4 linked regions of the Homo sapiens genome follow. The protein of the gene in region 3 purifies or fractionates together with the protein of the main gene of each other region. This does not show direct contact. Each region holds a gene or a part of one and is shown on either strand. Other genes may lie near its edges.

Evidence for each region.
Region 1: the proteins of EPHX1 (region 3) and ABAT purify together in Homo sapiens (affinity purification with mass spectrometry; one large-scale study listed by BioGRID and IntAct). This does not show direct contact.
Region 2: the proteins of EPHX1 (region 3) and CDC27 fractionate together in Homo sapiens (co-fractionation; one large-scale study listed by BioGRID). This does not show direct contact.
Region 4: the proteins of EPHX1 (region 3) and CHD8 fractionate together in Homo sapiens (co-fractionation; one large-scale study listed by BioGRID). This does not show direct contact.

Annotation. Positions count from the first base shown.
Region 1 is NC_000016.10:8,677,525-8,681,116, forward strand, and holds part of ABAT (4-aminobutyrate aminotransferase, mitochondrial isoform 1 precursor), read left to right. Parts: intron 1-3,592. UniProt on the Homo sapiens protein: Catalyzes the conversion of gamma-aminobutyrate and L-beta-aminoisobutyrate to succinate semialdehyde and methylmalonate semialdehyde, respectively. Can also convert delta-aminovalerate and beta-alanine.
Region 2 is NC_000017.11:47,138,396-47,146,449, forward strand, and holds part of CDC27 (cell division cycle protein 27 homolog), read right to left. Parts: intron 5,588-8,054; coding exon 5,488-5,587; intron 4,042-5,487; coding exon 3,834-4,041; intron 3,631-3,833; coding exon 3,458-3,630; intron 497-3,457; coding exon 344-496; intron 1-343. UniProt on the Homo sapiens protein: Component of the anaphase promoting complex/cyclosome (APC/C), a cell cycle-regulated E3 ubiquitin ligase that controls progression through mitosis and the G1 phase of the cell cycle.
Region 3 is NC_000001.11:225,828,057-225,836,110, forward strand, and holds part of EPHX1 (epoxide hydrolase 1), read left to right. Parts: intron 1-668; 5' UTR 669-673; coding exon 674-856; intron 857-3,722; coding exon 3,723-3,903; intron 3,904-8,054. UniProt on the Homo sapiens protein: Biotransformation enzyme that catalyzes the hydrolysis of arene and aliphatic epoxides to less reactive and more water soluble dihydrodiols by the trans addition of water.
Region 4 is NC_000014.9:21,387,822-21,395,875, forward strand, and holds part of CHD8 (chromodomain-helicase-DNA-binding protein 8), read right to left. Parts: coding exon 7,996-8,054; intron 7,532-7,995; coding exon 7,477-7,531; intron 7,299-7,476; coding exon 7,091-7,298; intron 6,665-7,090; coding exon 6,456-6,664; intron 6,375-6,455; coding exon 5,655-6,374; intron 5,434-5,654; coding exon 5,285-5,433; intron 4,989-5,284; coding exon 4,686-4,988; intron 4,433-4,685; exon of another isoform or gene 4,330-4,432; intron 4,126-4,329; coding exon 4,012-4,125; intron 3,986-4,011; exon of another isoform or gene 3,822-3,985; coding exon 3,642-3,821; exon of another isoform or gene 3,589-3,641; intron 3,243-3,588; coding exon 3,126-3,242; intron 1-3,125. UniProt on the Homo sapiens protein: ATP-dependent chromatin-remodeling factor, it slides nucleosomes along DNA; nucleosome sliding requires ATP. Acts as a transcription repressor by remodeling chromatin structure and recruiting histone H1 to target genes.

The sequences.
Region 1 (3,592 bases), on a different chromosome or scaffold from region 3:
CAGGTCTAGATGAGGGGTTCTCATTTTGGGCACTGTTGACAGTTGGGTCAGAGGATTCTTTGTTGTGGGACTCCCCTGTGTATTGTAGGATATTCAGCAGCGCCTCTGGTCTCTACCCACTAGATGCCAGTGACACTCCCTACCCCATGAGTCATGTCCATCAGAAATGTCTGCAGACATTGCCAGATGTGCCCTGGGGAGCAAAATCATCCTTTTCCTTCGCTATTGAGAACTGCTGGTCTAATACATGGCCTTAAACATAGTTGATACTTAATATAAAACAGCTTCCTAGCTGAGGCGGGTGGATGGCTTGAGCCCAGGAGTTTGAGACCAGCGTGGGCAACATGGCAAAACCCCATCTCTGTAAAATACAGGAAAAAAAAAATCAGCTGGTCATGGTGGCATGCGCCTGTAGTCCTAGCAACCTGGGAGGCTGAGGTGGGGGGATTGCTTGAGCCCGGGGAGGTCGAAGCTGCAGTGAGCCATGATCACACCACTGCATTCCAGCCTGGGTGACAGAGTGAGACACTGTCTCCAAAAAAAAACAAAATAAAAACCAAAAACAGCTTCTTTCTTGCACAAGCTCCTCGTTTTGGTTTCTGTGTAATGAGGAGAAGGAGATGTGTCTAGCTGTGGAGCCTTCCAATATTAATAACAATTTTTAATTTCTCACATTTACACAAGACTTTCTTGTCTGGTTTTTGTTTTTCTCTTTAGTAGAGACAGAGTCGGGTGGTCTCTAACTCCTAGGCTTAAGCGATCCTCCCGCCTTGGCTTCCCAAAGCACTGGGGTTACAAGTGTGAGTTACAACCAAAGCGCTGGGGTTACAAGTGTGAGTTACAGGAATAAGCCACAGCACCCAACCTACACAGGACCTTATCATCTCCAAAGCACTGTTGTGTCTATGACACTGTTTCTCACTCTACAGATAAGCAAACTAAGCCTCACAAAGGTTAAAAGACTTGTCTAAGACCATCACCCGCTTCTCCACCAGGCATCAGAGAAACATCCATGCCAGAAATTGTTTGAGAAACAACTGAGTTCTGGGCCTTCTTCAGATTAGTTATCAGGGTCTTTCGAAACTTCAATGGCATGCTCTTTGGTCCAGCAATCCCACTTTGAAAAATCTCACACAGAAATGCTCACACTTGCACTGACATAACATAAAAATGTCCATGGCAGAGCTTGCAACACTGGTATGGGAAGGGATTACAGTATATGCATTCATGTGGGAGAATGAGTAGATTTTAGATGAATGAGGTGGATCCACATTCCTGACCTTGAAAGGTTCCTGAGTCATATTATTTAGTGAAAAAGATAAAGTCACAGAATCAACATAGCCAGTATGATCCTATTTTTTTTTAAATGTAAATATGCATGAACATGGATAGTTAGGGAAGTGGGGAATTAAAAGGACCTAGATAGTATGTATGTATGAGAACATATTCCTGGGGGAAGAAGAAGAAAATAAATCTCCGCCAGCTTCCCATGCATTAAAAATGAGCAAAGTGGGCTGGCCACCTTGTCTCACGTCTGCGATCCCAGCACTTTGGGAGGCTGAGGCGGCAGAATCACTTGAGCCCAGGAGTTTGAGGCTGCAGTGAGTTGTGAGTGAGCCACTGCACTCCAACCTGGGCAACAAAGGGACACTGTAAATAATTAATCATAAGATAAAAATTAAAATGAATAGAGCACAACCCACAGAGGTTGAGAGACTTGCTAACACCAGAAGTTGCCAGTGGTGAAATTCAGCTTTGAGTTTGCTGATAGTTACGGGGCCAAGAGACAGGAATCTGAGGCTCATCTCAGCAGGCCAAGCCTCCTTCCTTACTGTGGGGAAATTCCTTCTCTGAGCACCTAGAGGGATCCTGGTGTCAGACTGACCTCACCTGAATCAGGCTTCCACCCACGTGATGACCTCAGGCCAGCCACTTTAACTCTCAGTGCCTCATTTCTCTAACTTTAAAATAGCTAAAAGGCAAAGGAAAAAACATGAAAGCCAAAAAAAAAAAAAAAGGTAGAAGGAGGAGGCAATAGTAGAACCTCTCTCATTGGGCCGCTGTGAGGATTACATAAAACCATGTGTTCCGACCCCCAGTACTTAGTAGGTGCTTAATTAACACGAGCCCTGGTCTCTCCTGCCTTTTTCTCTGCTTGCCTGCTCCTTGCCAGGATGCAGAAGACAAAAGCCTCAGAAAGGACAGTGGGGGCTCCTGAGGCCCCAAGAATGCTTAGCAGGCTGAATCAGTTGTCCTCACTTCTTCACTTTGCCCTCTGATCCACCATGACCACTCTGCTGCAGGAGCTTTTAACAGAAAGCCTGGGAGAGCATTCTGAGGGGGTCTGTGCTATAGCTCTTCCTCCCTGGGGTCTAACCATCCTTGCTTTCTCTAGACACTCCACACATTAAACTGTCTTGCCCGTTGCAGGGATGGGATGGCATCATGTGGCCTCTAATTACACATCCCTTCAATAATAAGATTGACTCTCCAAGGGCAAGTTTTCCTCCTCCTTCAAAAGCTATCTCACATTGCGTCTTTTACAGGTAGTCTTCCCCGACCCTCCCCCACCTCCAGCCAGGAAAACCATTTCTCCTCCTCCCAACTCCTGTCATCCACATCCTAGACTTCCTGGGTCTGCCACATCCTATTCTTCCTGGGTCCATCACATCCTAGATTTCTTGGGTCCATCACTGTTTGCTGGATTTCTTCCCAATCCATAATTGCCTGGAAGCAGCCATCACATCCATCACATTTATTCTTGTGTCTTAAATGCATAGCACACTTCCCTATGCACACAGTAGATATTCAAGGAGCATTGACTGAATGCAGAAAAGTATTTTTTAAATTGGGGTAAAATACACATAACATGAAATTGACCATTTTCATCATTTTATTTTTATGTATTTTTTTGGGGGGCAGGGGGAATCTTGCTCTGTCACCCAGGCTGGAGTGCAGTGGTGTGATCTCGGCTTACTGCAACCTCTGCCTCCTGGGTTCAGGCAATTCTGACTCAGCCTCCCAAGTAGCTGGGATTACATGTGTGGGCCACAACCACGCCCGGCTAATTTTTTTGTATTTTTAGTAGAGACGGGGTTTCACCATGTTGGCCAGGCTGGTCTTGAACTACTGACCTCAAGTGATCCGCCTGCCTCGGCTTCCCAAAGTGCTGGGATTACTGGCATGAGCCACTGCGCCCGACCTCCATTTTTTGATTATTATCATTGGGGTCACTGTGGCAGGTGTGAAGCAATACCACATTGTGGTTTTGATTTGCATTTCCCTAATGACTGATGGCATTGAGCATCTTATGTGTTTGTTGCTTATTTGTATATTATCTTCAGAGAAATGTCTACTCAAGTTCTTTGCCCATTTTTGAATTGAGTTGTCTTTTTGTCTTTTTGTTCTTGAGCTGTAAGAGTTCTTCTTTTCTCTTTTTCTTTTTCTTTTTATTTATCTATTTTTTTTTTTGAGACAGAGTCTCACCCTGTCTGTCACCCAAGCTGGAGTGCAGTGGCATGATCATAGCTTACTGCAGCCTTGACTTCCCAAGCTCAAACAATCCTTCTGCCTCAGTCTTCCAAGTAACTGG
Region 2 (8,054 bases), on a different chromosome or scaffold from region 3:
ACAATGACAATACTAATTTATTTTAATTTAAAATTATTAATTTTTTCAATCTATGTAACTTCTGCTCAACGAACCCTAATCTTGGTGACAACAGCAAATTTAACGTAGTCAAATCTCGATAAATCCTGAATGAAATAGCTGCTTTGTGATTTTTCTATTTGTGAATCTGCACCACACATTCTAGGACTTTCTCTTCCTCTCTGAGTCCCTGACTAGAGAGAGAGGAAAAAAAAGAAATAAGCGTGGGTGACACTAAATAGTGTTTGAATTGCTTGGTTCATCTCTATCTGTTGAGGGTGATCAAAAAGGTAACTATATAAGCAAAGTATTTTGGTTAACATACCTCTGGCGAATTTTTATCCATGTCTGTTAAGTCTTTTGACAGAACTGAAAGAGCAACATCTTTTTGAAGATGCCAAAGTGTTGTAGAGTAGATCTCCATGCCTTCAACTCTATAATTCTCAATCCTTCTAACCTCTGAGAATATTCTTTCAGCCTGAAATAAAAAAAACTAGTAAGAGAAAACAAGTTGATACAATTTATATATATACACAGGGAAAGCCCTGGTCATTATCTTCACAGGATCTAAATGCTGCCTTGTATTATGGTTTTTATGTGAATGAGTATTAACACAAGGACAAATTCAGCAATCTACTATGGCAGGTCAAATAGTGATGTAACCATATTGACAGTCAACCTAGTATTTATATACAAGCCATGGTAAGAACATGAACTCTGAAAAGGAAATTTGAGTTTCTACCAAAAAGACCGAAGAGAAATCTATACAAAGCTACAATTCAAAAGAAAAGTCAATATTTCCTTCTCAAAAACCTCATTTCCAAGTTTTAATAATGGCATTACAGAATAACTCTTTTTTTTTTTTTTTTTTGAGATGGAGTCTCACTCTGTCGCCCAGGCTGGAGTGCAGTGGCGCAATCTCGGCTCACTGCAAGCTCCGCCTCCCGAGTTCACGCCCTTCTCCTGCCTCAGCCTCCCAAGCAGCTGGGACTACAGGCGCCTGCCACCACACCTGGCTAATTTTTTGTATTTTTTAGTAGAGACAGGGTTTCACCATGTTAGCCAGGATGGTCTCGATCTCCTGACCTTGTGATCCACCCGCCTCGGCCTCCCAAAGTGCTGGGATTACAGGCATGAGCCACCACACCTGGCCAGAATAACTCTTTTAGGAAAGATGATGGAAGAATGATTTCTGTAACATAAAATCTATTTTTGAACAATTTTTACCGAGAGGTTGTGCCAGAAAATTTAGAGGGAAGAAACAGGTTAAGCTGGCTATCAATCCTATGGTTATAAATCCTATTGAGCCCTGAATATACACACCAATATTGTGTCTGCTAGGAATCATAGGCCCTACCTATTAATTATCCTTTCCTTTGCAGCACTCTCTTGACTTCAGGGTCTCTCCTCAGCTGCCTCATCAATTTTTTTCCTCATCACATTCACAGCTCCCAGAACTGTGTTTCTCTCCCTCTAAAGTTTGAGGATTTAGGTTATATAAAATCAGTTTCCTAGTTTATCAATTTACCAAGTTCAAAATTCTCAGCTGCCAGAAAAGGTCTAGGTAATAAAAAAAAAAAGAAAGGAAAAGAAATTTTCACAGTTTAGTTTATAATAAGGAATATCTGGACTATTCTTAATGAAATGAGTATGACAGAAAATAAGAGCATTTTAAAACTGAGTGCTTAATTCCAAGAAGTGGTCATATGATATATAGGAATAGCTTAACGATTTGTAACTTCCTTGCAATCTCTTAAAAGTTATAAAGGTAAGTGTGCAGCCTTGACCTGCAGGGCTCAAGTGATCCTTCCACTTCAGCCTCCCAAGTAGCTGGGACCACAGGTGAGTGCCACCACACCCAGCTAATTTTTTCATTTTTTTGTAGAGACAGGGTCTCACCACATTGGCCAGGTTGGTCTCCAACTCCTGAGCTCAAGTGATCCCCCTTCCTTGGCCTCCCAAAGTGCTGGTATTATAGGCATGAGCCACCACACCTGGCCAAGTTTTTCATTCAGGCATGGTAACAAGATAAAAGACCTACCAGCCAAATATAGGTAGGTACCTTTTGGTTTCAAAGTTTTCAGAATCTGTTGCTTCCTCTGAAAAATGATTATGGCATAGACAAAAAGAAAAATGGGAAAAAAACTCAGAAATTAAGTTGAAACAGAGGCTTTCTTTAATTAAATATTTGGGTCACCACTATAACTAGGGGAAACAATAAAATTCATTTATGTTAAAGTAGCTGTGAAACAATAAATTAGAAATAATTTTTTAAATGGCTTTTCCGAACACAGCTCTTGCCTGTCTGTGTATATGCTACATACCAGTAAAGGACCATAATCGAAACATGGGTTTTGTAGCAATGAATAAGACTTTCTGTCTTCAACTCTCTGTTCTGTACTATTCAAAATTAAATTATATGAATAGGTATCCTCTGTATGTATTCCCTGTGGGAAAGAACACCTTTCCCCTAGATCTTTGCATGGATCATGAAGGGAAGAGTAACCTTCCCTCTGAGTACATAAAAACAAAAACACCATACTTCATTGTCTCCCAGTTTCCTCACCATGCTTCATTTTTCTTCATGACTTATTGCTACCTGTTCTTATACATTTATTGGCTTATAATCTGTCTGTTGCTAGAATGTAAGCTCCACAGAGGCAAGAAATTGTCTGACTAGCTGTAATACAGAGTCTAGAAGAGAGTCCAGGATATCATATGCACAGAGATATATATTGAATAAATGAACTGAAAGCAAATTAAGCAAAAAACGAATCATATCAACTTTAATCCATATTAGAGATATTTTATTAATATATAGGTTTCTAAAAGGTTTCTTTTTTTAAGTTGGGGGTGGAGAAAATGCTTTGGGAAGAACTAAGGGGTAATATAAATTGGGAATTAGAATTTTCTTTGGCTTTAGGTTAATCATTCTCTCCTTTTCTGGTATAGACAGATAACTTAAGCAACAAATTTAATTAAAATCCAAAGAGTAAAAAGCCTTGTATTAAAGACATTGTGTCCTCAATTCAGCACAATTTTCTTTATAGCATTCTTCAAGCTTATAAAACATATTCGATGTCAAAAATTCACCCCAGTAATTAACTCTGTATATTGCAGAAAAATAAATAAATCCTATTACATGGTAAATATAAATATGTATTTTCAGACACAACTGAATAGGACACACTCTACGTAAGAATGTCTGGATGACTTGGGTCTCTATAAACCTATTCCGAGAAGTTGCAAAGAATTTAAATTACTCCTTAACACAAGAAAGAACTATATCTATAAATTATAAATACTGACAAAATAAATATATAGACATTACATAATAAATACTGATCTTTTAGATCTAGCCTTCTTAAGCATGGGCATTTATTTTAATGAAATTGAAATTATCTCTAGAAAGGCATATATAACCATTTTCTATACTTACTTGCATGTACTCTGAAAGTTCAAAATAGGCCCTTCCAATTTGGCACAGTACCCAACCAGTATTGTAGTGGTGAGAAGGTAGATGGCTCAAAATATTTATAGCTTCTTTGCAGTTGTATGAACACAAAGCTAAATAACCTTTCCCCATTTCACGAAGAAGGCTCATCAAACCTTCTAGGAGAAAACAACATAGTAAACAAAGGAAAAAACGCAATAAACTAGTCTGCTTCTCTAGAAAAGGTAATTACAAACTAATCTATTAAAAATTCCAACATCTATATAAAAAACAATGAAGGTACTGTAATGAACATAAAGAAATTTACTTAAAATAAGTACATAATAAAATACAAAGATAATATTAAGCATTTAAAACAGACCTGCTGCTGCTTTTTGTAGATTAAAGGCCTGAATCTGAGGTGTGATTGTGGATATTTTCCCTTCTGAAATGATGGAAGAGTCCAATTTTGTAATTTCCAGGCTATCATTTATGTTAGGTTGAGTTATTCCTCCTTTATTAGTTTTACTTTTTGTTTTTCTGTTTGGGATTTTAGGTGGAAACTTCATTTTTAATTTTTTGCTATTCTCCTGTAAAAGGGAAGAAATTTCACACCTGTTATACTCATGTATTTTAGATTTCTCCTCAGCCCTTTCTCCAGTATTAGATATAAAATAAATGTACAATCTTGATTAATTCTATATTTTTTTCAGAAGAGAGTTTATAAAAACAAAGGTCTTCAAAGTCATTTAATTTTAAACACAGTAATTCTGAACATAAATTACATTAACTAATAGTGACTAAGGTGTGTCAGCATTAAGTGTAGCCCTCTTGTGAAAGTATATCAAACTCTCATTTATTATTTAAAAGTAAGAAAATAAGTAGATGTAATTCTCAGCTCACCGCAACCCAACCTCTGCCTCCCGGGTTCAAGCGATTCTCCTGCTTCAGCCTCCCGCGTAACTGAGATTACAGGCATGAGCCACCACGCCCGGTTAATTTTTATTTTGGAAGAGACTGGATTTCTCCACGTTGGTCAGGCTGGTCTCGAACTCCTGACCTTAGGTGATCTGCCTGCCTTGGCCTCCCAAAGTGCTGGGATTACAGGCATGAGCCACCGTGCCCGGCCTTTGTTTTGTTTTTGGGACAGGATCTTATTCTGTTGCCCGTGCTGGAGTGTAATGATGTAATCAGAGCTCACCACAGCCTTGACCTCCCCAGGCTCAAGTGATTCTCCCACCACAGCCTCCCAAGCAGCTGGGATCAAAGAGTACTACCATCCCAGCTAATTTTTTTTTTCAGAGATGGGGTCTTGCTATGTTGACCAGGCTGGTCTCAAACTCCTAAGCTCAAGTGATCGGCCCACCTTGGCCTCCCAAAGTGCTAGGATTACAGGCGTGAGCCACTGCGTCCGCCGGGTCTCCAGTTTTTTTTAACTTTTATTTTCAAATAATTTTAGACTCACTCTTCTGCAAATGATAACATGTGACATAACCATAGTATATCATCATACCCAGGAAACTGAAATTAGTACAATATTATCAGCTAAAGACCTTACATGGATTTCATCAGTTTTTATATAAACCCGTGTGTGTGTATGTGTGTGCATAGTTCTATAAAATTTTATCACGTGAATGGATCTGTGTAATCAACCACCACAATCAGGATACAGGACTGTTGTACCACCACAATGCAATTCTTTTGTGCCATGATTTAATAGTAACATCCTCCCTAGAGGCCTAACTCCTAATAATCACTGATCTGTTGTCCATTCCTATAATTTTGCCATTTCAAGATTATTCCTATGTCATTTTTAACTTGAGAAAAAAAATTTTTTAATTAAAAAAGAATATTATATAATATTTACCAAAGGACTAATTAACTTCACAAAAATCATAGATGGCCCTCTAAATTAAAACATTTTAAAATTCGAAATAGTCTCTTTGTTAACTTATTAGGAATGGAGTCATCAATGAACAGAAATGTTAGCAGGCGAAGCATTAAGTAAATGTGACATACAGAAATCTTTAAATTACCTTGGTTGTGGAGCTGTCACTAGTAAAGAGTCGTGAACTTCTTCGAGGCAGTGCGTTTGGGGGAGATGTAATAGTGGGGCTCAATACCTGAGGTGTTGTACTAAAAAAAAATTATAAAGGAAGACATTAATATTTTACTTGATTTATGACCATTAACCATTGTTTCAATTTGGGTATATTTTAAAAATATACATTAATTATATAAGTACTCTAAAGTTGATGAATTTGATCAGTTCTTTTCGTGGTTTCTCTATGAAAACACAGTATTTAAAAATGAGGGACTCGGACTGGCTTTCCTGCTTCTCAGCTTGCAGATGGCCTCTTGTGGGACTTCACCTTGTGATCATAAGTCAATAATCCTTAATAAACTTTCCTTCATATAAAAAAATAAAAATAAAATGACTCGTTACTACAAAATAGTAAAGATTATAGCATAGATCTTCACTCTCTCTGAAATTCTTAATTTGAACTAAAAATAATCCTCATAAAACTCTGGATCGACAAATGATAAGCACATCTATAAATCAATTATTTTTACCCTTCATTTGCAACTACAACAAGTTAGAGAAAAAAGAAAAGACAGTTGGGCAAAGATAGTCTAAATGTGGGGTATTTGTTAACAAGTAAATACCACTAGAACTACTAATATTTGAGAAGTTATTTCCCTGTAAATTCAAACAGCTATATCAAAGGCTTATTCTCTTTAGAGCGAAAGGAGCCTCTGTACATTTTTACTTTAAAGGCAAACCCTGAGATATGAGAATTTCAATCTTAGCAAGCAAACTTAAAATCTGAAACAATCTAGAATTGACAGTGGGTAAACTTGTGGACTAAACTATCTAAACTTTATAATTTATGGGAAATCCTACTAGCTACCTGAGTCTGGGTCAAAGAATTTCAGAAAATAAAAAGATATATATTTTCATCTTTTACGATATGTACATATGTAATATGTACAGATACCTCTGTATATGCATGTGTGTGTATATCACACACACACACACACACACATAAATCCTTTTAATCTGCATCTGATAAACTAGGAGTTTGATAACGAAAGGCTTCCAAAGTTCAGAATTAGACTTCACTTCATATGGAGCAAATGACACACAACCTTTCTTGGATGATTTAGCTAAAAGTACTATGCCATTCTAATCATCTCTAAAAAAACTTTCTAAATAGAAAGAACAGACTTCCGCTAGTCATGACAGAGTAAAATGGAATAAATTTATTCTCCCATTTCAGATAACTACAAACTGAACCAAATATATGGAACAATGGTTTTCAGACACTGGACAATAGGCAAAACATTTCCGAGGACAGTTCTAGGGCCACCTTGCAGGAAAAAAGAATGCAAAATAGAGCTCAGTGGTCCCACTGTGTTGAAAAGAAAATGTTGAGAATTTGAGAAAGCCAAAGCAGCCAGAATTTGCAAGGCAGAGCACCAGAGAGAAGAGAGCTACAAAGAGGAGACCTACAAAGATCTGCAGAGGGCTTCCCTAGAGTCTTCAGTTGAAAATTGATCAGTGTAGGTGTTTGAGTGTTATATAATAAAGAATTTGTCTGGTCCACGTCCCAGGCTCCTGAGATCTACTAAGTCCTTGGAATTCCTCAAGTGACAGGGATGTCTTTGTTATTCATTATGAGCTCCTGGGACCGTGCCTGAATTTATGCTAATGAAGTAACTCCTAGATACTTTCTGGATGGGTGCTGGCTGTGCTGTAAAGGTCAACCATGTGGCCGGGCATGGTGGCTCACACATGTAATCCCAGCACTTTGGCAGGCCAAGGCAGGCGGATCACGAGGTCAAGAGATCGAGATCATCCTGGCCAACATGGTGGAACCCCATCTCTACTAAAAATACAAAAATTAGCTGGGCATGATGGCGGGTGCCTGTAATCCCAGCCACTCGCGGGTTCAAGTGTAATCACTTGAACCCGGGAGGTGGAGGTTGCAGTGAGCCAAGATCGTGCCATTGCATTGCAGCCTGGGCGACAACAGCGAAACTCTGTCTCAAAAAAAAAAAAGTCAACCATGTGATTAGAGGGCTGGGGCTTTGAGCCAGCAACACCAGCCTGAGCTCCTCTGGGAAGGAAATTGAGTTCAATCATGTGGCCAATGATTCCATCAATCACACCTACATAATTTAAAAACCCTAATAAAAATTTTGAACACCAAAACTTGGCTCAAATTCCTGGTTTGTAAACATACTGATGCATTGGGAGGGTGAGCCCAGAAAGAAGACATGAAAGCTCTGTATCAGGACCCTCCCATATCTAATCCTATGGATCTCCTAATTATGTCATCTACAATAAAACTGTAATCATTAAGTATAGCACTTTCCTGGACTCTGTGAGGTGCTCTAGCAAATTACTGAATGTAAGAGGGTAGTAGGAATCCTTAAATTTGTAGCCAGTTGGTCAGAAATGTGGGTGGCCTGGGGAACCCAGAACCTACAACTGGGCAGTTCAGACAGTTCTTGTTGGGGACTGTGATCTTAACCTGTGGTGTCTGTGCTAAGTTTGGGTAGTTAGCATCAGAATTACATTATAGTACTATAGTGAAGA
Region 3 (8,054 bases):
ATGAGGCTGTCGGGCGCCGTGGCTCACACCTGTAATCCCAGCACTTTGGGAGGCCGAGGCGGGCGGATCACGAGGTCAAGAGATTGAGACCATCCTGGCTAACATGGTGAAACCCCATCTCTACTAAAAATACAAAAATTAGCTGGGTGTGGTGGCACGTGCCTGTAGTCCCAGCTACTCGGGAGGCTGAGGCAGGAGAATGGTGGGAACCTGGGAGGCAAAGGTTGCAATGAGCTGAGATTGTGCCACTGCACTCCAGCCTGGTGACACAGTGAAACTCCATCTCAAAAAAAAAAACAACATGAGGCCTCAGAAATGTAGCTCCCAAAACCCCCTACCCAGGGCTGTGCAGAAGCCAAACCAGGTTCCTATTTTCCCAGGATGATGAACAGTTTTCAAAGCTTAGTAGGATTGTGGGTGATTTTGTCTCATTGTCTGTTGTTTTTCCATTTTTCTAGATCATATATATATAATATTTATACTATATATAATATGTATATAGTGTGTGTATATATATATATAATATGTATATATTAGGTCAAGTGTAAATAAAATCAGGGACAGGGTTGGAGCGCAGCAGGAAAGAGCCTGCTGGGGATCAGAGTCTCTGGGCTGTCAGGGCCGGGCTGGGCGGGCTCCGTTGTTAATGGCTTCCCCTCATCTTGCAGGAGCCATGTGGCTAGAAATCCTCCTCACTTCAGTGCTGGGCTTTGCCATCTACTGGTTCATCTCCCGGGACAAAGAGGAAACTTTGCCACTTGAAGATGGGTGGTGGGGGCCAGGCACGAGGTCCGCAGCCAGGGAGGACGACAGCATCCGCCCTTTCAAGGTGGAAACGTCAGATGAGGAGATCCACGTAAGGCACCTTGGGCCGGGCCGGGCTGGGCAGTGGAGAGGGTGGTGTGTCGAAGACAGGGGTTGGGTCTTAGGCCAGATGCGGGAGGGGACGGGGGCTTGGGAATGGTCCATCCTACTTGGGAGTGTGTTTCAGTCTGCTTTTCCTCTGCTGGGCAGGTGCAGGTTGCTTTGGAGAGGGATGCCCAGCCCTCCCACTTTCTCTCTTCTCCTTTCCCTACCCAAGGCCCAGCAGTGCTCAGGCAGGAGATGGGGTAACCTGTATCAAAGGTCACAGAAAGCAGCTGTCATCACCTCCTCTATGCCCTGCCTGAAGCCTTGGGAGTGAGGTTGTGGGAGAAAGTGAGCAGGTTCCCGTCAGAGACCCAGGAAGCACTGAGAAGGCAGGGATGCTACTGGTTAGGCACCGGCTGTGTGTCAGCCATTCCTGGTCACATTCAATCCCTACGGTGATCCCGCGGGGTGAGGATTGTTGTTCCCAAACTGCAGATGCAGAAGCTGAAGCTCAGGGGCATAAAGCAACTCGTTCAAGGCGGCCTAGCTAACATGCGGAAGGATTTGAAGTCCAATCTAATCCTGAAGCTGCTGCCCCTCCTCTGCACAGGGATAGAGTCAGGAAGGAGGTGACTGGGCAGGTGGGGTGAACTGAGAATGCATTCTCGGGGAGGAGCAAGGCTTGAGTGGGGGACAGGACGGTAGGCAGGCCTGGCATGGCCCTGCCAATCCTTTCTTTCATTCCGTGGGTTTTGAGCACCTACTGTGTGCAGGCCCAGTGAGTGCTTGGGAGAAGAGACAGCCCCTTCCGTCCAACAGCATACAGTCCAGTGAATGAGAAAAGGAATGTGCACAAAGAAAAGTAGACTAAAAGATAAATAAAGATAGGCTAGGTGCGGTGGCTCACGCTTTTAATCCCAGCACTTTAGGAGGCTGAGGCGGTGGATCACCTGAGGTCAGGAGTTCAAGACCAGCCTGGCCAACATCGTGAAACCCCGTCTCTACTAAAAATACAAAAAATTAGCCGGGCATAGTGGCGGGCACCTATAATAATCCCAGCTACTCGGGAGGCTGAGGCAGGAGAATCCCTTGAACCCAGGAGGCAGAGGCTGCAGTGAGCCAAGATCACACCACTGCACTCTAGCCTGGGCAACAAGAGTGAAATGCCATCTCAAAAAAAGAAACAGATGCATAAGGATAAATGTCACAAAAAGCATGGATAAAAGTCATGAGAGTTCCAAGGAGGAAGAGATTTAAAAGCAGAAGCTGGGCTAAACCCAAGAGCAACCAGGCTGAGGCTCCCTGGGTAGGACTTGCTTGCTGCAGCCTTGCTATTTAGGGCCAAGGCTGAGCCCTAAGGAAAGCTCCTTTAGGGAATTAGACTCCTAAGGGAGTCTGAGATTTCCAAAATCTGTTTGGGGGTAACTGAAACACTTGGGAAGAAGCCTGGGAATGGTGATGCTTGAGAGGCTCTCTAAGCTGACATGAACTTCCTCCCTCTGGGGCTGGCCTTTTAGCCTAATACATGCCAATGAGACTTGCACCCTCTCTCCTGGTCTGTAAATTTTTTAGTTTTTGGAGACAGGGTCTTGCTCTGTCACCAGGCTGGGGTGCAGTGGTGCGATCTTGGCTCACTGCAACCTCCGCCTCCTGGGTTCAAGCGATTCTCCTGCCTCAGCCTCCCAAGTAGCTGGCATTACAGGCACCTGTCACCATGCCTGGCTAATTTTTGTATTTTTAGTAGAGATGGGGTTTCGCCATGTTGGCCAGGCTGGTCTCGAACTCCTGACTTCAAGTGATCCACCTGCCTTGGCCTCCCAAAGCACTGGGATTACAGGCGTGAACCACCGTGCTGGGCCTGGCCTGTAATTTTTATCCCAACTCAGTTATAATGTATCATTCAATGTTGTATATCAGGGGTCAGGAAACCAGGCCCATAGACCAAATGTAGCCTGCTACCTGTTTTAGCACAGCGCCCATGCCAAGAATAGTGTTTACCTCTTTAAATAGTTAGGGGGAAAAAAATCAAAAGAAGAATAATAGTTTGTGACGTGAAAATTATATAGCAGTCAGATTTCAGTGTCCATAAATTTTTATTGGAACACAGCCACCCCCATTCATCTGTGCATTGGCTATGGCTGTCCATAAATAAAGTTTTATTGGAACACAGCCACCCCCATTCATCTGTGCATTGGCTGTGGCTGCTTTCACACTATGAAGACAGTGGAGTCACTGCAGCCTGCAAAGCCTAGAATATTTACTATCTGGCCCTTTACAGAAAAAGTTTGCCGACTCCCGCTGTAGAGACGCCTGGGTAAATTAAAGATGAGTATCGTGTATACACTTAAAGAGTAAAAGATGAGCTGGGCGCAGTGGCTTACACCTGTAATCCCACCACTTTGGGAGGCCAAGGCAGACAGATCACTTGAAGCCAGGAGTTCAAGACCAGCCTGGCCAACATGGCAAAACCCCGTCTCTACTAAAAATGCAAAAATTAGCCGGACATGGTGGCTCACACCTGTAATCCCAGCTACTCTGGGAGCTGAGGCATGACTGGCTTGAACCTGGGAGGTGGGGGTTGCAGTGGGCCGAGATCACGCCACTGCCCTCCAGCCTGGGCAACAGAGTGAGACCCTATCTCAAAAAAAAAAAAAGAAAAAAGAAAAAAGAAATGCGAAGTCTACAGTGAAGAAGGAAGAAGTGAAGAACACATCCGCTTTGGGAGTAGCCAGTGATGTGGGAAACTGCCTTGCCACTCCCAGAGGGCAGTATCTTGTGGCTGCAGGGTTTGCTGTGTTTTCTGGAAACAGACTTTGCTCTTGTGCTCTGTCCTTCCCATCCCTCTCAACTTGGGGTCCTGAATTTTGCTCCAGGACTTACACCAGAGGATCGATAAGTTCCGTTTCACCCCACCTTTGGAGGACAGCTGCTTCCACTATGGCTTCAACTCCAACTACCTGAAGAAAGTCATCTCCTACTGGCGGAATGAATTTGACTGGAAGAAGCAGGTGGAGATTCTCAACAGATACCCTCACTTCAAGACTAAGATTGAAGGTATGTTTGCAAAACGCCAGCCAGAGAGGGATGTATGTCATGAGAACAGCCTTCTTCCACAATGTGACTTACAGTCAGATAAAGTTGGAGAGATTCAGAACCCAATTATAGGTGACTGAGATGTACTTATACGTTGTAACCTTACTAAATGCAAAAATATTGCAGTCACAACAAATCTGTCCATCTTTAGAGCTAGGCAGGAACACATACATGCAATTTAAAAACCAAAGAAATGCACCATCCAGTCCAATGATGTGGCAATCTTTGAGAGGAAGGATGGAGATGAGATTTAGACCCAGGCCAAGTGGGGTGGCTCAGAACTGTAATCCCAGCACTTTGGGAGGCTGAGGTGGGTAGATCACGAGGTCAAGAGTTCAAGCAGCCTGGCCAAGATGGTGAAATCCCATCTCTACTAGAAATACAAAAAATAGCCAGGTGTGTTGGCAGGCAGCTGTAATCCCAGCTACTCTGGAGGCTGAAGCAGAGAATTGCTTGAAGCCAGGAGGCGGAGGTTGCAGTGAGCCAAGATCGCGCCACTGCACTCCAGCCTGGGCTCCATCTCAAAGAAAGAAAAGACTCTGCTCTCAGTTCTTTTGGATCTATACTCAGAAGTGGACTTGTTGGATCATACGGTAATTCTGCGTTTAATTTTCTGAGGAACCGCCATACTGCGTTCCGCAGCAGCTGCACCATTTTACTTTCCCACCCAACAATGCCTCAGAATCCCGATTCTCCAAATCCTTGCCAATATTTTTTTCCTTTCTTTTTTTCGGTAATGGTCATCCTAATGGGTATGAAATGGTATCACATTGTGGTTTTGAGTTGCATTTTCCTAATGATTACTGATGTTGAGCATTTTTTATGCGGTACTTATTGGATTCTTTGTAATTTCTCCGAAGAAATGTCTGTTCATGTCTTTTGTCCATTTTTTGGGTGTTTTATTAGGGTTTAGGAGTTCTCTATATATTCTGAATAAAATCTCTTATATTTGCAAATGTTTTCTCCCACTCTGTGGGTTGCCATACAATTAATCTTTTTCAGAGACAAGGTCTTGCTGTGTTGCTCAGGCTGGAGTGCAGCGGCTATTCACAGGCGTGATCATGGCTCACCACAGCCTCGAACTCCTGGGCTCAAGCAATCCTCTCGCCTCAGACCTCCTGAATAGCTGGTACTATAGGCGAGCACCACTGTGCCCAGCTTGTTAATTTTTTATATTGAAGAAATTGTACATGTTAGGAATCTTATTTTTAATGTTTTAAGATAATTTGGCCTTTTCAAGGAACAGTGAAGATTTTAATTTGTTAAAATTCTAGGAATTACTTAAAGTGTATGAAAGACATGTTGGTCAGTCAGATAAACTAAAGTTCCTAAAAAAAGGAAATTGAAATTATAGTGTTAACTGGGTGTGGTGGCATGCACCTGTAGTCCCAGCTACTCAGGAGGCTGAGGCAGGAGGATTGCTTGAGCCCAGGAATTCAAGGCTGCAGTGAGCTACAAGGACACCACTGCACTGGGTGACAGATCAAGACCCCATCTCTTAAAAAAAGAGAGAGAGGCTGGGCACGGTGGCGCACGCCTGTAATCCCAGCACTTTGGGAGGCTGAGGCAGGTGGATCACGAGGTCAGGAGGTTGAGACCATCGTAGCTAACACGGTGAAATCCTGTCTCTAATAAAAATACAAAAAATTAGCCAGGTGTGGTGGCGGGTGCCTGTAGTCCCAGCTACTCGGGAGGATGAGGCAGGAGAATGGCGTGAACCCAGGAGATGGAGCTTGTGGTGAGCTGAGATCACACCACTGCACTCCAGCCTGGGCGACAGAATGAGACTCTGTCTTTAAAAAAAAAAAAAAAAAACAGGCTGGGCGCCGTGGCTCACGCCTGTAATCCCAGCACTTTGGGAGGTCAAGGCGGGCAGATCACAAGGTCAGGAGATCGAGACCATCCTGGTCTAACTTGGTGAAACCCCGTCTCTACTAAAAATACAAAAAATTAGCCGGGCGTGGTGGCAGGCGCCTGTGGTCCCAGCTACTTGGGAGGCTGAGGCAGAAGAATAGCGTGAACCCGGAAGGCGGAGCTTGCAGTGAGCCCAGATTGCGCCACTGCACTCCAGCCTGGGTGACAGGGCAAGACTCTGTCTCAAAAAAAAAAAAAAGAAAAAAAAAAAAAGCCGGGTGCGGTGGCTCACACCTGTAATCCTAGCACTGTGGGAGGCCGAGGCGGGTGGATCCCAAGGTCAAGAGATCGAGACCATCCTGGCCAACATGGTGAAACCCCGTCTCTACTAAAAATACAAAAATTAGCTGGGCATGGTGGCACGTGCCTGTAGTTCCAGCTACTCGGGAGGCTGAGGCAAAAGAATTGCTTGAACCAGGGAGGCGGAGGTTGCAGTGAGCCGAGATCGCGCCACTGCACTCCAGCCTGGCAACAGAGCAAGACTCCATCTCAAAAAAAAAGGGAGAAAGGAAGGATGGACGGAAACCTCGACTTGGAGGTGCCAGGGCAGCAAACATCCTTGTTCTGATGCAAGCAGGCCAGGCCTGTGGGAGAATGAGCCAGAGAAAAGCTAAGTCAAATCCCAGTGGTGTGTGTCCTGGAACTAGAGCCCATCCTGGAGCTCAGCCAAGAACACTAAAAAAAAAAAAAAAAAAAATCTGGAATGATTTTTTGGATCAAATTTGGACTTCTCTTGAGTGTTGCTGTATTCTTTACAGTAATTTGATATCTTCTATTATGAGCCTAACAAGAGGATCCAAGCCACTTAATCCCAGCCAAACTGCTGTATGCAATTACCATAGGTTCCTGTTTGGATTCCTGGCACGAAATTGCCTGGCTTCCTTGAGTTTGACTTGGATCCCTGTGTTGTCCCAGCTCTTCAGTGTCCATCCAGCAGAAACTAACAGGGCGCCTGCTGTACCCAGGCATTCTGCTGGGGCTGGGGACGCATAGAGAGGACAGGGTCCCTCCTTCACAGCTCATAGGCTCTTCAGGGGCAATTCCAGCACATAGTGGCGGTGTTCTGAAGGAGGAGGCTCTGGGAGCTTCATGAGCCCCACAATCTTCCTTTGAATGTGAGGGAAGGCTTCCTGGAGGAGGTGGCATCTAAGCTGAAATGAGTGGGACTTTGCCAGGTGTGTGGGGAAGGTGGTCCAAGAAAGGGGAACAGCATGTTCAAAGGCCCAGAGGCAGGAGGCAGTAAAGGGCCCTTTCCATCCTGGCAGCTGCCAGCCTTACCCCACTGGACCCTTTCAGGGTTCTTCATGAGACTGGGTTTTTTTTAGAGACAGGGTCTCACTCTGTCAGCCAGGCTGGAGTGCAGTGGTGTGATCACAGTTCATTGCAGCCTCAATTTCCTGAGCTCAAGCGATCCTCCCACCTCAGCCTCTCAAGTAGCTGGGACCACAGGTATGCACCACCACACTAGGCTTTTTTTTTTTTTTTTTTTTTTCTTGAGACGGAGTCTCGCTCTGTCACCCAGGCTGGAGTGCAGTGACGCAATCTCGACTCACTGCAAGCTCCGCCTCCCAGGTTCACGCCATTCTCCTGCCTCAGCCTCCCGAGTAGCTGGGACTACAGGCGCCCGCCACCATGCCCAGCTAATTTTTTGTATTTTTAGTAGAGACGGGGTTTCACCGTGTTAGCCAGGATGATCTTGATCGCCTGACCTCGTGATCCACCTGCCTCAGCCTCCCAAAGTGCTGGGATTACAGGTATGAGCCACGGCACCCGGCCTTTGTTTTTTCTTTCCTTTTTTTTTTTTTTTACATTTTTAGTAGAGACAAGGTCTCACCATGTCACCCAGGCTGATCGCAAACTCCTGGGCTCAAGCAATTCTCCCACCTTGGCTTCCCAAAGTATCAGGATTATAGGTGTGAGCCACCACACCCAGCTGACATTGGGCATTTATGGTACAAAACCTCCCTCAGGTACAACGGCTCCAAAAGAGCCAGTTTCCAGCATTGAATTCATCGTGGACTTACCCATGTGTGGTTCTGGCACCCTGCCCGGGGCTGGAGGCCTGTTCTTGGCCTTGGTCCTTTAGAATAGGAGTAAATTTGGCAACATAGGAGGACACCCAGGATACATTGTTAAGTTAAAAAAAAAGAGATTCTAAAATAGAATGTATGTATGGTTCTATTTTTGTTAAAAGTTAT
Region 4 (8,054 bases), on a different chromosome or scaffold from region 3:
AAAAAAAAGAATTCTGTACTAGTCATATTAGGATTTTCTGTGATTTTCTATGATATTTCTTAAGAGTTTCAGTTGACTATAAGGGAGTAGCAGAAGTACTTGAGGTAAAAATAGGTAACAGTGAAGGAAAAGCCCTTCTTACAGGCTGCTCTATAATGTTAAATTAAAGACAGAGATGGCATTAGCCTTCTAGCCACCAGCCTTTCCCATATCAACCATTCTGTTTATTGCACTCTTGTTCTCATCGAGGCTAACAGGGAAAACTGAAACATTCTCCCATGGTAACACTTCCATTAATATAAAAATAAGCCTCATAAATCTACATATATTTTATGTTTCAAACTTGTTAAATGCAAAATATTGATAGTTTACTTTAAAATTAATTTTGTTAAAAGATATTCCATGTGGTTATATAGACACATAAATATATGTGTATGCACATAGTCAGCCTTCCATATCCATGGATTCAACCATCTGTGGATTGAAAATATTTGAAAACAACAAGAAACTAAAAAATAACAAGAGAAAATACTACAGATTTTAAAACAATACCGTGTAACAACTATTTACATAGTATTTATATTGTGTTAGGTATTATAAGTAATCAAGAGATTAAAGTGTATCAGAGGAAGTGTGTCGGTTACATGGAAATACTACATGATTTTATTTATTTATTTATTTATTTTTTGAGGCAGGGTCTCACACTCTATTGCCCAGGCTGGAGTGCAGTGGCATGATCATGGGTCACTGTAGTCTCAGCCTCTGGGCTCAAGTGATCCTCCTGCCTCAGCTTCCACATAGCTGATACTAGAGGACTGCACTACCACGCCCAGCTAATTTTTTGTAGAGATAAGGTCCCACTGGGGTCCCCAGGCTGGTCTTGAACTCCTGGGCACAAGTGATCCTCTTGCCTCAGCCTCCCAAAGTGCTGGGATTACAGGTAAGAGCCACCGCACCTGGCTCTACACCATTTTATATATAAAGGACTCGAGCATCCATGGATTTTGGTATCTGCAGGGGTCCTGGAACCAATCCCTCACAGATACCAAGGGATGACTGTATGTGTATAAAGATTTCTATAGAAGATCAAATGGGGGAATAATTAGATAAGGCAAGTATATACAAGTGCTAATCCATTTTAAATGACTCTATGTCATTTAAAACAATGATTTATGTATGCTTTAAAAATACAACTATTGACCAGGCGCTGTGGCTCACGCCTGTAATCCCAACACTTTGGGAGGCTGAGGCGGGTGGATCACAAGGTCAGTAGTTCGAGACCAGCCTGACCAACATGGTGAAACCCCGTCTCTACTAAAAATACAGAAATTAGCTGGGCATGGTTGCACACACCTGTAATCCCAGCTACTCGGGAGGCTGAGGCAGGAGAATCACTTGAACTTGGGAGGTAAAGGTTGCAGTGAGCTGAGATCAGTCCATTGCACTCCAGCCTGGGCAACAGAGCAAGACTCCGTCTCAGGAAAAAAAAAAAAAAATTACAACTATTGGCCAGGCACAGTGGCTCATGCCTGTAATCCCAGTACTTCGGGAGGCTTAGGCAGGTGGATCACCTGAGGTCGGGAGTTTGAGAACAGTCTGGCCAACATGGCAAAACCTTCTTTCTATTAAAAATACAAAAATTAGCTGGGTATGGTAGCATGCGCCAGTGGTCCCAGCTACTTGGGAGGCTGAGGCAAGAGAATCACTTGAACCGGGGATGCAGAGCTTGCCGTGAGCTGAGATTGTGGCACTGCCCTCCAGCCTGGGTGACAGGGCAAGACTCTGTCTCAAAAAAATAAAAGATTAAAAAACAAATACAACTATTGCAGAAAGTAAGGTAAGCATAGCCAAGAGAAACTTTTGCAGTTGAAATTTGGTGGAAAGAATAAACTGTGGGTACTTAGTCCACCAAATGGCCTATTATCCATCATAAAAGTATAAGTAAATTTGAAAATATAGAATAACTTAATGGACAAATTTATTATGAATTACAAAACAGTTTCCTCTGCTTTTTCCATTACTGACATATTATTAGTGATTCTCAACCTTTATATATTGGGAAATCTCATGACTATTTTCCTTAGAAGACCTCTCCAAACACTTCTAAAATATATAGAATTAGAAAACTTAAGGCCGAGTGCGGTGGCTGAAGCCTGTAATCCCAGTACTTCAGAAGGCCAAGGCGGGTGGATTACTTGAGGCCAGGAGTTCCAGAGCAGCTTGGCCAACGTGGTGAAACCTCGTCCCTACTAAAAATACAAAGAATTAGCCTGGCCTGGTGGTGCACGCCTGCAATCCCAGCTACTTGAGAGGCTGGGCAGGAGAATGGCTTGAACCAGGGGAGGGAGAAGTTGCAGTGAGCTGAGATGGTGCCACTGCACTCCAGCTTGGGTGACAGAGTGAGACCATGTCTCAAAAAAACAGAAAACTTAAGAAATTGCTTTAAAACCCTCACTTTTCAGGATGTAAAAACTGAAGAGGTTAAAGGATTTGTCCAAAATCCCTTAGTTATTCAATAGAAGAACAGAGTAAGATCTGAATGTTCTCTCTAACCCATCTTACTAATTCTTAAATTTTCATATGCATCAAGTACTAAAGTTAGTTTTTAGAATGTTATGCTCTCCTAGAGATGAAGATACCACAGGACTGCAAAAATACTGATAAAAATACTCTGGGCCAGGTGCAGTGTGGCTCAGGCCTGTAATCCCAACACTTTGGGAGGCCGAGGCGGGTGGATCACGAGGTCAGGAGTTCAAGACCGGCCTGGCCAAGATGGTGAAACCCAATCTTTACTAAAAATACAAAAATTAGCCAGGCGCGGTGGCAGGTGCCTGTAATCCCAGCTACTCAGGAGGCTGATGCACGAGAATTGCTTGAACCCGGCGGGCGGAGGTTGCAGTAGGCCAAGATTGCGCCACTGCACGACAGCAGAGTGAGACTCCGTCTCAAAAAAAAAAAAAAAACCCCAGAAAACTCCGGTTTCCTTATTGGTGAACTCAAGATAATTCTTCACACAAACAAACATAGGAAAAAAGATAAATAACATTAGTCACAATCATCATTGAAAGACTTGTAATCTCACATCTAGTGTGGGAATAGAGTGGTAATGCTGCAATTTCTCTCACCTTTTTCCCATTTCTAGAGTTAGCTGTCTGTACTGGTTCCATTCCCAAACAGTTCAATTCTGCCTTATTATTTTTTTTACATCTTTGCCACTTCTGTTTTCTGCGATCCTCCATATACTGCAATAGAAAAAATCAGTTATCCTAGAGGAATAGAAATCTTCTCTGGAGTAATTATTAAAGTACTAGTGTCTTTTGTTTGATAATAAACACTTATTACATAGATAAAGGATTCATCCTAGTGGAAAACTGCCATTAAGTGGGATCTCTCCAAAAAATATTAGGTGGTTTATATAATAGTTCAATAGTAAATATTTGCCTAGCACTTAAAGTACTTCAACATTATTTTATTTTGGGCATCACAACAATTGTGAGGTTGGAAGACTGGGTATTATTAATTATTACCCTTATCTTGCAGATACAGAAACGATGATACAGTATGTCATGCTTTCTCTTTCTCATGCAGCTTAAATACCAAAGGAATGACTTTAAATCTTGCTGGATGGGACTGCCACTCACCGCTAGAAATCGGGGATCAACAGCAAACTCTGGATGACCCTGTAACCACATCTCCAGTTCAGCCCGGCGAGGGGCATCCTCACCCACCAGCAAAGTACCATCCACCTTATTGATGACAGGGATCCGGGTCTCCAGGTCCACATCAAGGTGATTAGGCTCTTCCATGCACTCCACCTCCAGCTGCAAACCCAGAATCCACCCCCATGAGCACATACTCTTCTTTGGGGGAGGGAGGGAGGGGGAGCAGGGCCAATGGTAGTCATGAAATGACTCTAGTATTTTCCATTCCCCCAGTCCCACTGCCTTCATCAATTATTGGGAATAAAAAGACAATCTAATCGTCAGGTTAAAGACTTTCTCTACCACTCACCTCTACTAGCTTCTTTCTGTTCCCCTTCTTCTTATGAAACAGTGGATGTCCATCTCCCATTACTCCATTCGCCATCAACTTGTGCTTCTGGAATGTTAACTTCAATCCTTCCTCCTAGGAAGACAACCCACCCACCCAAGACATCATATGGTACATGTTTTTCAAAGTAAAGATTAAGCTTTGAGGGATGTGGGCTATAGGTCATCCTCTTGCCCAATGATGGTGAGAAGGAAGGCCATCTGACTAAAGGGTAAAATTAGAAATACAAGAAAACATACACACTTTTTCCTTAGAAAGATTTCACTTCTTCACCTAGTGCCCCTCAGCATTTACGAGAAAGAGTTTATTTCAACAACACCCAAGTTAGGGTAAAACTCCCTACCTGGTGTCTCCGTATTAGCATGGCAACTCATCACAGGGGCAAAATCCTGCTATTCCTAAGCATACTAATTTAAGAAACTTTTGTTGAATATTAATAGGATTAATAATCAATAGGGTTCAATAAGGAAAACAACCAGGAAAAATGATTCTTCCTAAATGGATCTTTGTAAGCTCTGTTTTCTCATTTTTAAAATTAGCTAACCAAATGAGTTTAGTAACCTATTAGTAAAATTAGTTACAGCAAGGATTCCAGCCTCCTTCCCCACTTCCCAATGCCCAAATGCTGAGCTTACATCTTTGATTTGAACTGTAAACTCCTTTTCATCCATGCCTCGGCGAAGTTTGGTGAACTGGGCTGCCGCTGTGCTGACTGCAGATGCTTCCTCCTCTGCCATGGAAGCTGCACTACTACTTCGTGGTGTGGGGACTGGAGAGTCACCATATTCTCCAGGAGTCAATGAGGGACTGTCTAGCAAGTGGTTGCCTGGCCCCAAAATTCCTCCTGTTACCATTTCCTGGCTCCTACGGCTAGAAGGCCACTTCCCTGAGAGTACAGCCTGGCAGACGAGGTCAATACGGTTTATCAGGACACGATCCTGAATGGGGAAAGAAAGAAATACCATTTTAAGAGTCTGAGTACTAGCTGTGTGATCCTGTGATACTCAATAGTGCCATCACTACCAGGATGGGTAAAAATCATAAGGCAGAAAAGAGGAAGTTAATACTATTAAGATTCCTAAGTCAACTGGGAAGTTTCCTGGAAAAAAAAAAAAAAACTTGCAGCAATAAACACAATTTTAAAAATCCAGAACCATATGTTCCTTTTTCCCCGGATATACTGTTACACTGTATTTCTGGACTCTACATGTCCAGGGATGAGGCTGTTTGTTACCTTGGGCCACTCAGAGGCTCTTTGTCTTTCCTGCAGTAGCAGAAGCTCAGGGGTCATTTGTTCTCCATCTTCATTTGGGAATCCATCTTGGGACATAGTGAGGGACAGGAGACTCTCTTCATCATAGAGCTTTGAGCGGGACTGGTCAGCTGGTAAGAGAGCCCATAGAATGTGTGAGAAAAGATGGAAGAATAATGTCATATGGTAATGGTATTATATGGGCTTTGAATAAAGGCCCAAAGAATGGCACTCTTTTGACATTTTATCAAATCAAAATCCAAATCTCTCTCAAGAGGATGCATTTAGAAAAGGGAAAGAGAAGAGAGGGGGAAATAGGGAAGGGGGCCAACAGCCTGTCACATGCACTCACTTAGCTTCTCTTCCTTCTCATCCTCACTCTCATCAGTGCTGGAGCTGGAGCTGGATGAGGATGAGGAAGAAGAAGAAGATGGTGACAGCTTGCTCAAGTCCAGCTCAGAGTCCGAATCATCCTCATCCTCCAGTTTGACTGGTGGAACACTCCGGGAAACCAGAGGGGTAGTATCAGAGGGGGATACTCGCATCTCATAGTCTTGTGGGGTTGGTCGGCTCCTGGCCACCACCTCGTGCTCTAGCTTTAAAGTCAGACTCTCCAGACTGGGGACCTGGGTAGCTGTCTCCTCGGGTGACTTTTCAACAGGAGCATCTGGGCGCAGGGGCAGTGGTGAGGCAGTGCGTGAGGTATACTGCTGGTGCAGCAGTGGAGTAGAGCAGCGTGACAAGGATGGAGCTGGTGCTCCTGCTTGATGGTTCTGCATATAATTCATACGGGCAGCCAGAAAAGAGAAGTCTGGGTCCTGCATGATGTTGCAGTCTGTTTGGCTCACCCCATGGCGGGCTGCCCCTCTTAGAAGCTCCCCATCATGCCGAACAGGCTCCCACCATTTGGGCAATTCAGGACCAGGAGGCTGACACAATGCCAGCCGATCTTCCAAAAGGGGGTGGCATAAAACTTGTTCCCGTAAGCGCCGAAGCAATTCTATACGGTAGAGAGTCCGTGAGGCTCTCTCCTCAGTGATGGGCTCAATGAACAGGTTAGGGTCGGGGGGTTCTGCAAGAGACAGGAGTAGAAGAAATTAACAGAGTTGCTTCTGTTGGCATCCATCCTCACCCACTCTGCAATCTTGCTTACCATCTCCAGCTGCTGGGGGAAGGCGGCATACTTGGCGGCACATGGCCACAAAGCCATGGAAGTACTTGGTAAGGCTTTCATCTGTCTTTTTGTCTAGTCGAGCAAAAGTGCGGAAGCGATCCCAATGGAACTGCATGGTGTCAGGGTCATATTCCACACCAAACGTAGACACCACTCGATAAAAATCAGTTTGTTCACGCCTTGTCCATCTACAAAAGGAAAAGTAGGGCAACAATAATCAGAAGAACACATCAGAAGAACACAAGAAAACTGGTTATTTTTTAATGTGTTTTAGAATATCTGAAAACACAAAAATTGAAAGTAGACGCAAAAAAAAAAAAAAAAAAAGGCCCAGAAGAGGTAGTGAGAGGTACTCTGTAATGAGTAAGAATTACAGAGCCAAGGGGGAAAAGACACAGACAAATATCAATGAAAATGTCTACACAGGAGACCTACCTGAGAGTTAATGATTACTGCATGCAAGTGAGGTTTTAATTTCTACAGGTTTAACTACCCAAGGCAGAAAAGATGGTCCCTCTGTAGAGAATTCCAAATAAATCCTTCCTGAGATGGCTTTCAGTATAGGGACCATAACTGAAAACACAGATCAGCACAAGTTCCCAGCTATATTTTACCGTTGTTGTTTCTCCCGCCGTGCAATTTCTTTCAGCTTGAAGGCTGCTTCACAACGCCGCCTTCGCCGGTCCCCACGTTCTGCAGCCTCTATCTTCATTTGTTCTCTCTTGTAGCTGCGCTGATACGCTGTTACTAGACGCCGAAGCCTAGCTGTTAGGGCAGAGCCCGGAGGCCAGAATAAATGGCCTGGCTGTTGGGTCACCTGGGCTGTGGAAAACAAAGTAGAATGAATAGGAAGTATAGCAAGGGTAGTAGAGGCAATACTAGTATTTTAACCCACCCAAAGGCAAAGCTCTTAGAAATCCCAGGATAGGACAGAATTCAGTGAATAATTCCCCAACCCACCACCCCACACAGAATTATACTAGTTGACCTAGAAGTTTACCTTCATCTCCATCAATCACTGAGATCTCCTCATCCATCATCATCAAGGGATCACCCTAGAGAAGGAGATCCACCCAATAGGATGGAGCGGGGAGGGAAAGGGGGGGAAGTTGGCACTCTGAAATCACTTTCTTGTGTGTGTCCTTCTATGGCACCAAGGGATCAAGAAAAACTTCTAAAGAAATATATCCCCACAAAAACTTGGAAACAATCAACTAAAAGAACAAGAAAGTAGAACCTGAAAGGTCAGTTCCTATTAACGACTCAAAGATAATAGAAGTCAGGAATTTATTAGTCAAATAATATCTTTCAGTGTCCAGCTCCTCCATAAAGTTATCCCTGATCTCCCCCTACTGGCATTACAGTCCTTTCCATTAATATTTTCTATTCTCAAATGGTATAATTCATTTTCCATTTTGTATTATAAATTAACCAATATATTTCAAGATTCAGAGAATGGTTGAAGACTTAAAACTATTTAGTAATAGAGAAAAGTGAGACTCAAATGAGAATTCCTTACCTCATCATCTTGGTCCTTTGGGGGACCTTGGAGTGGTTTATATTCAGGATCTTCACAAT